Homo sapiens: one gene and its partners. The protein of the gene in region 2 purifies or fractionates together with the protein of the main gene of each other region. This does not show direct contact. Each region holds a gene or a part of one and is shown on either strand. Other genes may lie near its edges.

The links. The genes of interacting proteins can lie anywhere in the genome.
Region 1: the proteins of MVD (region 2) and NSDHL purify together in Homo sapiens (affinity purification with mass spectrometry; one large-scale study listed by BioGRID and IntAct). This does not show direct contact.
Region 3: the proteins of MVD (region 2) and GLS fractionate together in Homo sapiens (co-fractionation; one large-scale study listed by BioGRID). This does not show direct contact.
Region 4: the proteins of MVD (region 2) and TTLL5 purify together in Homo sapiens (affinity purification with mass spectrometry; one large-scale study listed by BioGRID and IntAct). This does not show direct contact.

The regions. Positions count from the first base shown.
Region 1 is NC_000023.11:152,837,563-152,841,062, forward strand, and holds part of NSDHL (sterol-4-alpha-carboxylate 3-dehydrogenase, decarboxylating), read left to right. Parts: intron 1-3,500. UniProt on the Homo sapiens protein: Catalyzes the NAD(P)(+)-dependent oxidative decarboxylation of the C4 methyl groups of 4-alpha-carboxysterols in post-squalene cholesterol biosynthesis. Also plays a role in the regulation of the endocytic trafficking of EGFR.
Region 2 is NC_000016.10:88,660,292-88,664,348, forward strand, and holds the start of MVD (diphosphomevalonate decarboxylase), read right to left. Parts: upstream 2,801-4,057; 5' UTR 2,790-2,800; coding exon 2,720-2,789; intron 2,491-2,719; exon of another isoform or gene 2,428-2,490; coding exon of another isoform or gene 2,421-2,427; intron 347-2,420; exon of another isoform or gene 229-346; intron 1-228. UniProt on the Homo sapiens protein: Catalyzes the ATP dependent decarboxylation of (R)-5-diphosphomevalonate to form isopentenyl diphosphate (IPP).
Region 3 is NC_000002.12:190,963,437-190,966,052, reverse strand, and holds the end of GLS (glutaminase kidney isoform, mitochondrial isoform 1 precursor), read right to left. Parts: 3' UTR 501-2,616; downstream 1-500. UniProt on the Homo sapiens protein: Catalyzes the first reaction in the primary pathway for the renal catabolism of glutamine. Plays a role in maintaining acid-base homeostasis. Regulates the levels of the neurotransmitter glutamate, the main excitatory neurotransmitter in the brain.
Region 4 is NC_000014.9:75,765,746-75,769,245, reverse strand, and holds part of TTLL5 (tubulin polyglutamylase TTLL5), read right to left. Parts: intron 3,185-3,500; coding exon 2,878-3,184; intron 1-2,877. UniProt on the Homo sapiens protein: Polyglutamylase which modifies tubulin, generating polyglutamate side chains on the gamma-carboxyl group of specific glutamate residues within the C-terminal tail of tubulin.

The DNA of each region.
Region 1 (3,500 bases), on a different chromosome or scaffold from region 2:
TTTGTCTTTGGTTCTGTTTATATGCTGGATTACATTTATTGATTTATGTATGTTGAACCAGCCTTGCATCCCTAGGATGAAGCCCACTTGATCGTGGTGGATAAGCTTTTTGACATGCTACTGGATTCAGTTTGCCAGTATTTTATTGAGGATTTTTGCATCGATGTTCATCAGGGATATTGGTCTAAAATTCTCTTTTTTTGTTGTGTCTCTGCCAGGCTTTGGTATCAGGATGATGCTGGCCTCATAAAATGAGTTAGGGAGGATTCCCTCTTTTTCTATTGAGTGGAATAGTTTCAGAAGGAATAGTACCAGCTCCTCTTTGTACCTCTGGTAGAATTCGGCTGTGAATCCGTCCGGTCCTGGCCTTTTTTTGGTTGGTAGGCTATTAATTATTGCCTCAATTTCAGAGCCTGTTATTGGTCTGTTCAGGGATTCAACTTCTTCCTGGTTTAGTCTTGGGAGGATGTGTGTGTCCAGGAATTTATCCATTTCTTCTAGATTTTCTAGTTTATTTGCATAGAAGTGTTTATAGTATTCTCTGATGGTAGTTTGTATTTCTGTGGGATCGGTGGTGATATCTCCTATATCATTTTTTATTGTGTCTATTTGATTCTTCTCTCTTTTCTTCTTTATTAGTCTTGCTAGCGGTCTATCAATTTTATTGATCTTTTCAAAAAACCAGCTCCTGGATTCACTGATTTTTTTTGAAGGGTTTTTTGTGTCTCTATCTCCTTCAGTTCTGCTCTGATCTTAGTTATTTCTTACCTTCTGCTAGCTTGTGAATGTGTTTGCTCTTGTTTCTCTAGTTCTTTTAATTGTGATGTTAGGGTGTCAATTTTAGATCTTTCCTGCTTTCTCTTGTGGGCATTTAGTGCTATAAATTTCCCTCTACGCACTGCTTTAAATGTGTTCCAGAGATTCTGGTATGTTGTGTCTTTGTTCTCATTGGTTTCAAAGAACATCTTTATTTCTGCCTTCATTTCGATATTTACCCAGTAGTCATTCAGGAGCAGGTTTTTCAGTTTTCATGTAGTTGTGCAGTTTTTAGTGAGTTTCTTAATCCTGAGTTCTAATTTGATTGCCCTGTGTCTGAGAGACGGTTTGTTGTGCTTTCTGTTCTTTTACATTTGCTGAGGAGTGCTTTACTTCCAACTATGTGGTCAATTTTGGAATAAGTGTGATGTGGTGCTGAGAAGAATGTATATTCTGTTGATTTGGGGTGGAGAGTTCTGTAGATGTCTATTAGGTCTGCTTGGTGCAGAGCTGAGTTCAATTCCTGGATATCCTTGTTAACCTTCTGTCTTGTTGATCTGTCTAATGTTGACAGTGGGGTGTGAAAGTCTCCCATTATTATTGAGTGGGAGTCTAAGTCTCTTTGTAGGTCTCTAAGGACTTGCTTTATGAATCTGGGTGCTCCTGTATTAGGTGCATATATATTTAGGATAGTTAGCTCTTCTTGTTGAATGGATCCCTTTACCATTATGTAATGGCCTTCTTTGTCTCTTTTGATCTTTGTTGGTTTAAAGTCTGTTTTATCAAAGACTAGGATTGCAACTTCTGCTTTTTTTTGCTTTCCATTTGCTTGGTAGATCTCTCTTCATCCCTTTATTTTGAGCCTATGTACGTCACTGCACGTGAGATGGGTCTCCTGAATACAGCACACTGATGGGTCTTGACTCTTTATCCAATTTGTCAGTCTGTGTCTTTTAATTGGGGCATTTAGCCCATTTACATTTAAGGTTAATATTGTTATGTGTGAATTTGATCCTGTCATTATGATGTTAGGTGGTTATTTTGCCCGTTAATTGATGCAGTTTCTTCCTAGCATTGACAGTCTTTACAATTTGTCATGTTTTTGCAGTGGCTGGTACCAGTTGTTCCTTTCCATGTTTAGTGCTTCCTTCAGGAGCTCTTATAAGGCAGGCCTGGTGGTGACAAAATCTCCCAGCATTTGTTTGTCTGTAAAGGATTTTATTTCTCCTTCACTTATGAAGCTTAGTTTGGCTGGATATGAAATTCTAGGTTGAAAATTCTTTTCTTTAAGAATGTTGAATATTGGCTCCCACTCTCTTCTGGCTTGTAGGGTTTCTGCCGAGGGATCTGCTGTTAGTCTGATGGGCTTCCCTTTGTCGGTAACCCGACCTTTCTCTCTGGCTGCCCTTTACATTTTTTCCTTCATTTCAACTTTGGTGAATCTGACAATTATGTGTCTTGGAGTTGCTCTTCTCGAGGAGTATCTTTGTGGCATTCTCTGTATTTCCTAAATTTGAATGTTGGCCTGCCTTGCTAGGTTGGGGAAGTTCTCCTGGATAATATCCTGCAGAGTGTTTTCCAACTTGGTTCCATTCTCCCTGTCACTTTCAGGTACTCCAGTCAAATGTAGATTTGGTCTTTTCACATAGTCCCATGTTATTTGGAGGCTTTGTTCATTTCTTTTTACTCTTTTTTTCTCTAACCTTGTCTTCTCACTTTATTTCATTAATTTGATCTTCAATCACTGATATCCTTTCTTCCAATTGATTGATTTGGCTATTGAAGCTTGTGCGTATGTCATGAAGTTCTCGTGCCATGGTTTTTCAGCTCCGTCAGGGCATTTAAGGTCTTCTCTACACTGTTTATTCTAGTTAGTCATTCATCTAACCTTTTTTCAAGGTTTTTAGCTTCCTTGCGATGGGTTAGAACATGTTCCTTTAGCTCAGAGAAGTTTTTTATTACCAACCTTCTGAAGCCTACTTCTGTCAACTTGTCAAAGTCATTCTCCATCCAGCTTTGTTCTGTTGCTGGCGAGGAGCTGTGATCCTTTGGAGGAGAAGAGGCACGCTGGTTTTTAGAATTTTCAGGCTTTCTGCTCTGGTTTCTCCCCATCTTTGTGGTTTTATCTACCTTTGGTCTTTGATGTTGGTAACCTACAGATGGGGTTTTGGTGTGATGTCCTTTCTGTTGATGTTGATGCTATTCCTTTCTGTTTGTTAGTTTTCCTTCTAACAGTCAGGTCACTCAGCTGCAGGTCTGTTGGAATTTGCTGGAGCTCCACTCCAAACCCTGTTTCCCTGGGTATCACCAATGGAGGCTGCAGAACAGCAAATATTGCTGCCTGATCCTTCCTCTGGGAGCTTCGTGCCAGAGGGTCACCCGCCTGTATAAGGTGTCTGTCGGCCCCTACTGGGAGGTGTCTCCAGTTAGGCTACATGAGGGTCAGGGACCCACTTGAGGAGCAGTCTGTCCTTTCTCAGAGCTCAAACGCCATGCTGGGAGAACTACTGCTCTCTTAAGAGCTGTCAGACAAGGACGTTTAAGTCTGCCAAAGTTTCTGCTGCCTTTTGTTCAGCTATGCCATGCCCACAGAGGTGGAGTCTATAGAGGCAGTAGGCCTTGCTGAGCTGTGGTGGGCTCTGCCCAGTTCGAGCTTCTCAGCCACTTTGTTTACCTATTCAAGCCTCAGCAATGGCGGACGCCCCTCCCCCTCCAGGCTGCAGCCTCACAGGTGGATCTCAGAC
Region 2 (4,057 bases):
TAAGGTTTAAAGAAGACCAGAGTCTCTGAACGTTACAAGAAAATGGACACGTTTCCATAAATATCACTGTTGGTGAGCCTCAGTGGCTCACACCTACGATCCCAGCACTTTGGGAGGCCGAAGCAGGCAGATCACTTGAGGTCAGGAGTTTAAGACCAGCCTGGCCAATATGGCAAAACCCCGTCTCCACTAAAAGTACAAAAATTAGCCAGGTGTGGTGGCGCACACCTGTAGTCCCAGCTACTCGAGAGGCTGAGGCAGGAGAATCGGTTGAACCCGGGAAGCGGAGGTTGCAGTGAGCCGAGATCACGCCATTGCACTCCAGCCTGGGTGTCGCAGTGACAGTCTGTCTCAAAAAAATAAATATAAAAGTAATACAAATAAATATAAAAATATAAATATAAAATAAATAAATATAAAAAATAAAAATAAAAGGCCAGACGCGGTGGCTCACACCTGTAATCCCAGCACTTTGGGAGGCTGAGGTGGGCAGATCACGAGGTCAGGAGCTTCAGACCAGCCTGGCTAACACGGTGAAACCCCATCTCTACTAAAAATACAAAAATTAGCCAAGTGTGGTGGCACGTGCATGTAGTCCCAAATACTCAGAAGACTAAGGCAGGAGAATTGCTTGAACCCAGGAGGCGGAGGTTACAGTGAGCCAAGATTGTGCCACTGCACTCCAGCCTGGGTGACAGAGCAAGACTCTGTCTCAAAAAAAAAAAAAAAAAAAAAAAAAATAGCAGAAGAGAAAATCCAGAAATAGACCCACACAAACATGCCCAGCTGATTTTTTTTTTTACAAAAGTGCAAAAGCAATTCAATAGAGGAAGGATAGCCTTTCTGGGCTAACTGGACAACCTTGGATCACAGACTTAAATATAAAAGGCAATCCTGTACAACTTGGAGGAAAGCAGACAATCTTCAGGACATAGGGCTAAGCAAAGAGGTCTTAGACTTGACATCAACATTGATACACTGAACTTCTTTAAAATGAAAAACTGGCTCTTTGTTAAGAGGACAAAAAGATTAGCTAGTTTGGGAGACAATACCTGCAAACCACATGTCCAACAGGAGACTAATATCTAGAATACATATTTTATTTTTTTTCAGTAGAGACGGGGGTTTCACCATGTTGGCCAAGCTGGTCTCAAACTCCTGACCTCAGGTGATCCGCCCACCTCAGCCTCCCCAAGTGCTGGGATTACAGGCTTGAGCCAGCGTGCCCAGCCTAGAATGTGTAATGAACTCTCCAAACTTATAGTAAAAAAGCAAACCATCCAGTTCGAGCGTGGACACAGAATATGAAGAGAGATTTCACCAAGAAAACCCACAGATGGCAAATAAGCACAAAGAAAGATGCTCCACGTCACTGGCCAACAGGGAAACGCGAATGAGGACCACAGCACCCTGCCAGCACATCCCTACCAGGACGCGGCTAAAATGAAAAACAGCAACTCCACCAAATGCTGGTGAGGATGCGGAAAATCTGCATCACCGTAGGGATGCAAAATGGCCCAGCCACTCTGAAAAACAATTAGACAGTTTCTTTAAAAAAAAAAAGTATATATATAATATATATATGTATATATACACACACATACATCTATATAGGTGTATACATATACACACACATATATCTATACAGGTGTATATATATATACACACACACAAACATACATATATACATAGAAAGAGAGAGAGAGACAGAGAGGCATATATATATATCTACCATCTGACCCAGCAACCGCACTCCTGGGCATTTATCCCAGAAGAATGGAAATGTATGTTCACACAAAAACCTGTATACAACATTTTATGGCAGCTTTATTGGTAAGGGAAACACAAAAAAATTAGCCAGTCGTGGTGGCGGCTTCTGGAAAGAAAAGAAAGAAAGAAAGAAAACGTTAGATGCTCTTTGCGGGGTGAGGCCTTGGCTAGAGAGAGGGTGGTCCATGGATTCCACGGACTGGCTCAGCAACAGAGGGGCAAAGCACTGATACAATCCCGGGGCACGTCCACATTCTATGCTGAATGAAATAAGCCAAACTCAAAAGATACTGGGTGGGCCACATAACTGCGATTCCAGTTTCAGAACATTTTGAAATGACGTTACAGAAATGAGTGGTCAGTGGCGGCCAGGTAACCCCGGCGCGAGGGGAGGGGCGGGGCTGTGAACGCACAGGTGCGGACCGGCCTCCCCGGCACGGATGTGGGCCTGCGGGCCCCCCATTACCGCTCCTTGGAGGTTACCGCTGGGAGAAACGGGGCGAGGGAGGGACACAGGGTCTCGGGCTGGGGGAGCAGTGGCGCGATTTCCGCTCACTGCAGCCTCGACCTCCCGGGCTCTGGCCATCCTCCCGCCTCAGCCTCCCGAGTAGCTGGAGCCACAAACGCGCACCACCACGGCGGATTCTTACGATTCATGGGAATCGATGATTGATGATTTCGATAGTTCGGTAATCGCTAATGGGCAGGCGCCGGGCGACCCTGCAGGGGCGGCAGCCGTCGCGGGGGAACGGGTGGCGCCGAGCTTGTCACGCGAAGGAGCGCGCGGCCCCGCCCGACCACCGCCGCGCCCCTCCCTGAGCCTCAGTTTCCCCGTCTGTCGAGGCCCTGGGAGGGCAGGACGGAGCGCGCCGCCGAATCAGCGCGCGACCCCCGCGTACCCGGCCTCGCTCCCGGCCATCCCCGTCCCAGGCCGGCCCGCGGCACTCACAGTACTTGATGACCGCGATGTTGACCGGCGCTGTACAAGTGACTGCCGCCAGCGGCTTCTCCGAGGCCATGGTCCCACCGCGCAGTGACCCCAGCTCCACAGCCACTTACGGCCCGCGATCCCACCCCAGAGGCCTCTGCCTCCTCACGCGCTACCACAGGATTGGCCCGTGCGAGCCCGGCTGCTCGCGCGCCGACCAATCAGCGGCGAGTCGGGCGCACGCATTACCTCTCAGCCAATGGACGGGATCGGACGATGGGTTGCTGACGTAGGTCCGCCCCACCCGCAGGGTGCGCTCGCCAGGCCTGGGGCGTGGTGTTGTCTGCGCAGGCGCCGTGTGCCCAGGCGCCTGGCGTCCGCGTCGGCGATCCGGGGTCTGGGCGCGGCGAGGTGGGCGCTGTTGCCTGTGGGGGCTACCTGTCTGCTGGTGCTGTGCGGGCTTGTGCGGGGCTGTGCGGCAGCTGTGTGGGGCCCGTGAGGAGCTGTGCGGGGGGCTGTGCGAAGGGCTGTGTGAGGCGCTGTGCTGGGGGCTGTGCGGAGACCTTGAGGCGCTGTGCGGGGTCCGTGAGGCTCTGTGTGGGGCGCCGTGTGGGAGACTCTGCGGGGGCCGTAAAGGGTCCGTGAGGCGCTGTGTGCGGGTTGTGAGGCGCTGTGCGGGGACCATGAAGGGGCCGTGGGGCGCTGTGCGGGTGCCGTGGGGCGCTGTGTGGGAGGGAGGCTGTGCGGGGCCGTGGGACGGTGTGCGGGGCTGAGGGGAGGGCGGGTCGCGCTGTGCCCTCCTTGAAGCTCTTGGACGGCCCCGCTGGGTATGGGGGTGCACACAGGCCCGAGGGCAGGCGCTGGAGGATGTATCCCGGGATCCACTCTTAACCCGGCAGCCGAAGGCACCCTGTCCCGCCGCCCACAGCCTTCTCCGCGCCATGTCCTGGGCCAGGATCCCCCGCCACGGGGCTCACACGAAAGACCCCGGGGCGGGGAAGCCCCGCAGCCCGGAGCTGGGTCCAACCTGCATTAAGGTGGGCGTCTCAAATACCCCCTGTAAGGCCCTGTAGGAGCAAAGCCTTGGACTGGGTTGCGGCGCTTGTGTGTGCATTGACTTCTCCTGTGAAACGTACAGGAACATTTAAGCGTGCCGTTCCCTGCCATTCATTCCAATCATGTGCCACGCCCCCACTATTTCTAGAGTTTTCTCACCCCAAACAGAAACTCTGTCCCCTTAAAACAATGACTTCCCATTTTCCCCTTCCCCTTTTAAAATTTTACCTTTAGTTTTTAAATAGCTCAGATTGGCTGGGCATGGTGGCTCACACCTGTAATCCCAGCACTTTGGGAGGCCGA
Region 3 (2,616 bases), on a different chromosome or scaffold from region 2:
TACACTAACCCCTGGCCTGAAAGGAAAGAGTGCTCTGAAGACCAGGGATTTCTGGCATTGGAAGCGAATGCTATTCCCACGCAGAATAAATTAGGAGCTGAGGTGTACTGGCTGGTGACACTCAGATTCTAGTGTGGCAGTACTAGCTTCAACTCTCTAAATAAATTTCAAGGCTTTGTGAAAATAACCTCTCTTCTCATTCAAGGGTATGTTTACTGGTTCCATTCAACAAATATTTACTGAGCACTTCCTAACTGTAAAAGGATAGTGTTTGCATCTAGAGGACTAGAGACATGCCTGCACATCCCTCACCTTCAAAGGTGAACTCTACACAGGATTCTTGTCCTAGTCATTGTGGCAACCCCATCTGACACCTTGTGTAGTACCTAGCTTTATAGCAGGCATTAGAAATGGATTGGAACCTAACCAGAGATGGTCTGTATGCTCAGTGGAGTTCCTGGCTCTTAATTGTTTTAAGAAAATTCATTTTTTCCACACAGTTTTTTTTTTGATACATATATTTATTATGCTGTAAAAAGCAACACTACCTGATTGCATTTAAAATAAATGTTTCCCAATTTCAGAATACTTACAACTTGTAGTTTTAAGATTAGATTCACTTTGGGAGGTTTTAGAAGCAAATACATTCATAGCTGTGTAATCCCCAGGAAGAATCTAAATCTGACATCAGGTCATTCAGTCCCTGCCAGACAGACAACAGCATCAAATGGTCAACAGCTAATCCAGCTCTGCAGCTAAAGGGCAGTGTCGGGCAGCAGTGGGGTATAGCATATTACCAAAGATGAGACCAGCAAAAACAACAATGTGTATAAAGCTTTAAATTAACATGATCATATAGAGCGCTCAGGATACAGAAAAAGCACATATGATACTAAAGCCAAAACAAAAAGATCTTTGGAGTTTACTGACGGCAGCAGTTAATAGCACAGTCAACAGCATTTAAATCAAATATATTATTACCAGCCAACAGCAAACAGCCCGAGCAGGAATCGGCACATAGTCATAAATAACATCAGGGGTAAATAACGGCACATTTAATTAAACAACAAAGATTTTACAGAATGGTTTTGATCTGAAAAAAGATGAAAACTCTCTTTGTTCCCAAATAATGGTTAGAACCTCTTTTTATTATAGAAAAGCCTCAAAATCATTGGTAATCTTCAAGTCACACAATTCAACTGTCTTGTTTCATTTTAGTCACACAAAGCGGGCTGCTCTTTGAATAAAGTTATCTTGATTGATTTCAGTTAAAACGTGTCTACCCTGTAATATCTTTGGGGATAATGCTGCTCCTGTGCAGCATCTTACAAATGCTACCTGTCTCCATGGCTTGCTAGATCCACGGGGTAGGAAACTGCTCACTCAGCATCCTCCCCATGGAAGCTCAAGCATGGGAACAGCTTCGGGCCTGGTGCAGCTAAGGAACATTGGCCGTGGTTTCACCAAAGGAGGTGCCATCTAGGTAATGGGAGGGCAGTGGCAGGAGCCACTGGCTTAGACTGGAAGTGAAAATGAAAGCACCTGGAGGCTGCTGGAGTAAGGTGCCATCAGGCATGTAAAGTTTAGAAGCAGCAGAGTGTGCTCATAGAAAAAGAAAAAAAAAGGAATTTGCTGTATGTGATAACAACTAACATTCATGTACTTGAGCTCATTTCACTAAACACAGCTTCAGAGAAGTCCATTTGTGTGCATGTGTGTGTGTGCTTAATATCAGAACTCCTCACTAACATGCCACTTTATCTCGAGGTATGACAGGATAAAATGTATGTGTAACTCCTAGAAAATCCTGTTCTATCCGTTTTTTGAAGCCCCTTTTACCCACTTTCCAAATGAATCCTGAATTACCAACCCAAGACAAAGAATTATAGGTCACAATTTAAAATGAAATGGCCTTTTTCTTATTATTAAACTACAGAGCCCACCAAGAATTACACAATAGAAAAATCACAAGAAATCTGGAATGATCCAGTGGTCCCCCAAGGAGGACAAATCTCTTGATGCAGACTCTTAATGACAGGCTTGGAAACAAATGTTTGTTAGTTGTAGCAGTTCCCATACTTTCAGAATAACTTTGGTAGCTTAGAGCATTTCTGAATTTATCTTTACCCTAGAAGCTAAAAAAAAAAAACTTCTTAAAGAGCTGCAGTTGCACATCCCTTCGTTTTTTAGACTGATAAACTTGACTAATTTATACTTAGTAATTTTGTCTCTGGTTCGTCTTCTGTAGACAAATGGCAAAGTTCTGATGCCAGAAATAGGAGGCATTTTCTGACTTACTATGGAAAACATAAAAACTGCATAGTATGCCAGCTCTCACTTTCCCAGCTAAAGGAAAGAGGCAGATAGCTAAATGTCTGAGAAGAGAGGCTGGACTAAGGGGATATAGAAAAAGGAAAATTTTTCAAAAGCATTATAACTACATTCACACATACGTTTTGGTCACCAAACATATCTTAAACAGATTCCCTGATAAAGTCTAATCAGAATTGGTCTATCTTACTAACAGTTGTTAACTATTATAGTTTTTTAAGAGTCACATCATGAAGCTAGGGGGTGAGAGAGACATTTTAAACACACAACCGTAAGTGCATATAG
Region 4 (3,500 bases), on a different chromosome or scaffold from region 2:
CAGCTTTAGGGAACACAGTCTGAAAACCACTGATTGACACTAACGCAGCCTGCAATTTTAACAGTTTACTCATTCAAAGCGAGAGCCACAAGATTCATGAAGAAATAATTTATTTCTACAACAACTAAGCAGAATGTTATTGCTGGAAAGGACCTTAGAATACAGTCCAGTGGTTTTCAAATGCTCTATTTTCAATTCAGTGAAATCTTCTTTCCCTCTAGGAAGAAGTTTGAAAAAACACTTGTCTAACTCCACATCTTGGATTGACAGAAAAGGAAACTGAGGCCTATAGAAGCTCTTTGACTTGTCTATGACCACACGGCCAGTTGGTAGCACTAAAACAGCCAGAGCTCAGGTCTTCTGACTGAGTTTAGCATATTCTATTCTCCACTGACAGAACTATTCTTATTCTCCATGACACTGTTCCAAACCTTAACTCTATCCCCTGCTACTCCAATGTCACCCTCCAGCCTTTCAGTATAAGAACTGGCCTCTAATTTAGAAATAAAGACTATCATGCATAAACGGCTAAACTTCCTTGCTCTTAAACTTCTGTCAACTTCATTCATCCCATAGCACTTTCTTTCTGACTGATAGGAAGAGATACTCCCTCCTCTGGCCTCTTCCCACCTTCCTTTAGTACTCTTCTCTACCAATATGTCCATTTCTGCATTTCTAATCCTCTTATCCTCAAATCCTTCCCCTTAGTCTATAAACAACCTCCAGAACCTCTTCTCAAAAGAAAAAAAAAAAATCCGTTTCTTTTAGCTGGCTGTCTCCCTGATGCATTCTTACCTTCCTTTCATTGCCAAACCCTTAGACAGTTAGTTCACACTTGCTTTCTTATTTTCTCCACTCACAACTGGTCTTCCACCTACTCAGTTGGCCCTAGGTCACAAATCCAGAAGTCTCTTTTCACTATTCATCCTAACTAGGGCTGTTTGAGGCTCTACAGACCTGAAATGCTCATTCTGCAGCTTTTACCATACTACTCCTTCCTGATCTTATGTCTATTGCTCTAACTGCTACATCTTGACCTTTTTACTGACTTACCCATTGAACAGTGGTATTCCCCAGGGCTCAATTCTTTTTTTATCCTTGCTGAACCAAATAAATTTGTGAACAATCTTATCCATTCGCAAGACTTTACCTACCAACTATACAATCCTGTTCAACCTTGATCAACAAAGCTGTCCACCTGTCTATTGGACTTTAGCCCAGAACCCTTCTTCCTTACTACATCTTAAATCAAACTCATTGTTTTTAACATGAAACCAACTCCTATGTTCCTTATATTGACCAAAGGCACCACCAAGTTTCCAAATGTGAAAAACTTAGTCTCATCAATTTTACTTTGCAAATTTTACTAAGTCCATCCCATTCTCTCCACTCCTAAAGCCATTACTCTGATCAAGGCCTTCATCTTCCTGGCTCTGGACAATTCTAACAGTCCCTAACTCACCCCCCTGCCTTTAGTTTCACTATCCCACAATGCAAGCACGATTTACTTTCTAAAACAAGATCTCACCGTATCATTTATCTGCTTAAAAGTCATCTAGAAAATAAAGCTTAGGCTCCTCTTACGGCCCTTCACAATCTAACAACATCCAATTTTTTAGTCTCATTTCTTACCATGCTCTTCTCCTTATATAATTCCTCTAGTCTGTATTTTGTAAACACACCAAGCTCATTACGATGTCTGGGCTTTTGTACTTGCTATTCTGCTGGGAGTATTCTGCCTCCTACTATTCACACGACTGACTCCTCATCATTCAGGACTTACCTCAAAGGTTACCTCTTCATGCCAGATCACTGCAATTAAGTAACTCTGCCCAATTACATTCTAACATTACACCATCTTATTGTCCTGACAGCATTTCTCACGACCTGAAATGACCTTGTTTCTTTGTTAACTGTCATTCTTCCCCACTAGACTGTAAACTCCAGGCCTATCTTGGTCCCCACAGTAATGTGATATGGCCTAGCACAACTGGCATAGGGCAGGTGCTCAATAAAAACTCACTGAGGGACTTAATGAATGACTGTATTATCACACCTCTATGTCTTTTTTTTTTTTTTTTTAAGATGGAGTTTCACTCTTGTTGCCCAGGCTGGAGTGCAATGGCACAATCTTGGCTCACTGCAAACTCCACCTTCCAGGTTCAAGCAATTCTCCTGCTTCATCCTCCCGAGTAGCTGGGCTTACAGGCATGCACCACCACACCCAGCTAATTTTGTATTTTTAGTAGAGACAGGGTTTCTCCATGTTGGTCAGGCTGGTCTCGAACTCCTGACCTTAGGTGATCCGACCACCTCGGCCTCCCAAAGTGCTGCAATTATAGGTGTGAGACACTGAGCTTGGCCACCTCTACGTCTTTATTGCCTCTACCTAGCACTCCCACATTTAACCATCACTTCCCAAAGCTCCTGAAACCCTACTCATCTGTCAAGGCCTGATTCAAATTTTCCCTCATCCATAATGCCTTTCTAGCCCTCCCAAGCCAGACCAATCACTCTTTTTCTGTGTCCTAAGACCACTTTGTTCATAGTGGGGCCATGGCCTGAGCTCTCTGTCTCTGATACTAAACGACGAGCTGCTTGAGCTCCTTGTCCCAGTTACCTTATACTCAGTGACTGACACAAATGCCCAACCAATGAGACCCGGGTTTGTATCATAGCTCTACCTTAGACAAGTTACCTAACCTCTCTAAGGCTCAGTTTCCTTAATAATAACAGTATCTAATCACAGTCATTATTTCATAGGACTTCTGTAAATATTAAATGAAAAATGACTGTAAAACCACTAAAATAGTAGCTGGTACACAGTACAAGTTAGCTGTTATCAGTTTTACTAATATAATTATAAAAGATACATACCTAAGATTGCCATTATCTTGAAGAATCTGCATCAGGTTAAATTTAGGCTCTAGCTCCTGAGTCTCAAGTTTGCAGCAGTGTCCACCTTTATTATTCCATTCACGAACTTTCATGGAATTTTCTTTGGGTGTATTTTCTACCAAAGCTGTCAATGAGGGTGTATATTTGGCTTGATTTTCTCTAAGAAATCCTGCAGACTCCTCCTGGGAAGCCTCCTGTTCTTCATCTTCATTATCTAATGCGACTTCTTCCTCCTCTTCACTCTCTGTCTCAGTTTTAACATTCATTTCAGCTGGTTGGGTAATCACTAAATACGAAGAATCACTAATGTTGCTGAAAAAAGGATTAAATGTTCCTCTCTCCCAATACCTTCCTTTTCTCTTTTTAGTAAAAGCCCATTTCTAAACCAAACCACAAACAAGGCACAGAATTAATAGCACCCACATGTCACTCTCTAATCTCATATATTCTTTTATTTATTTTTGTTTTCATTTATTATCATTTTTTGATTCAGGGTCTCGCTCTGTTGCCCAGGCTGGAGGGCAGTGGCAGGATCTCGGCTCATTACAGCTCGACATCCTGGGGTCAAGTAGTCCTCCAACCTCAGCCTTCCAAGTAGCTGG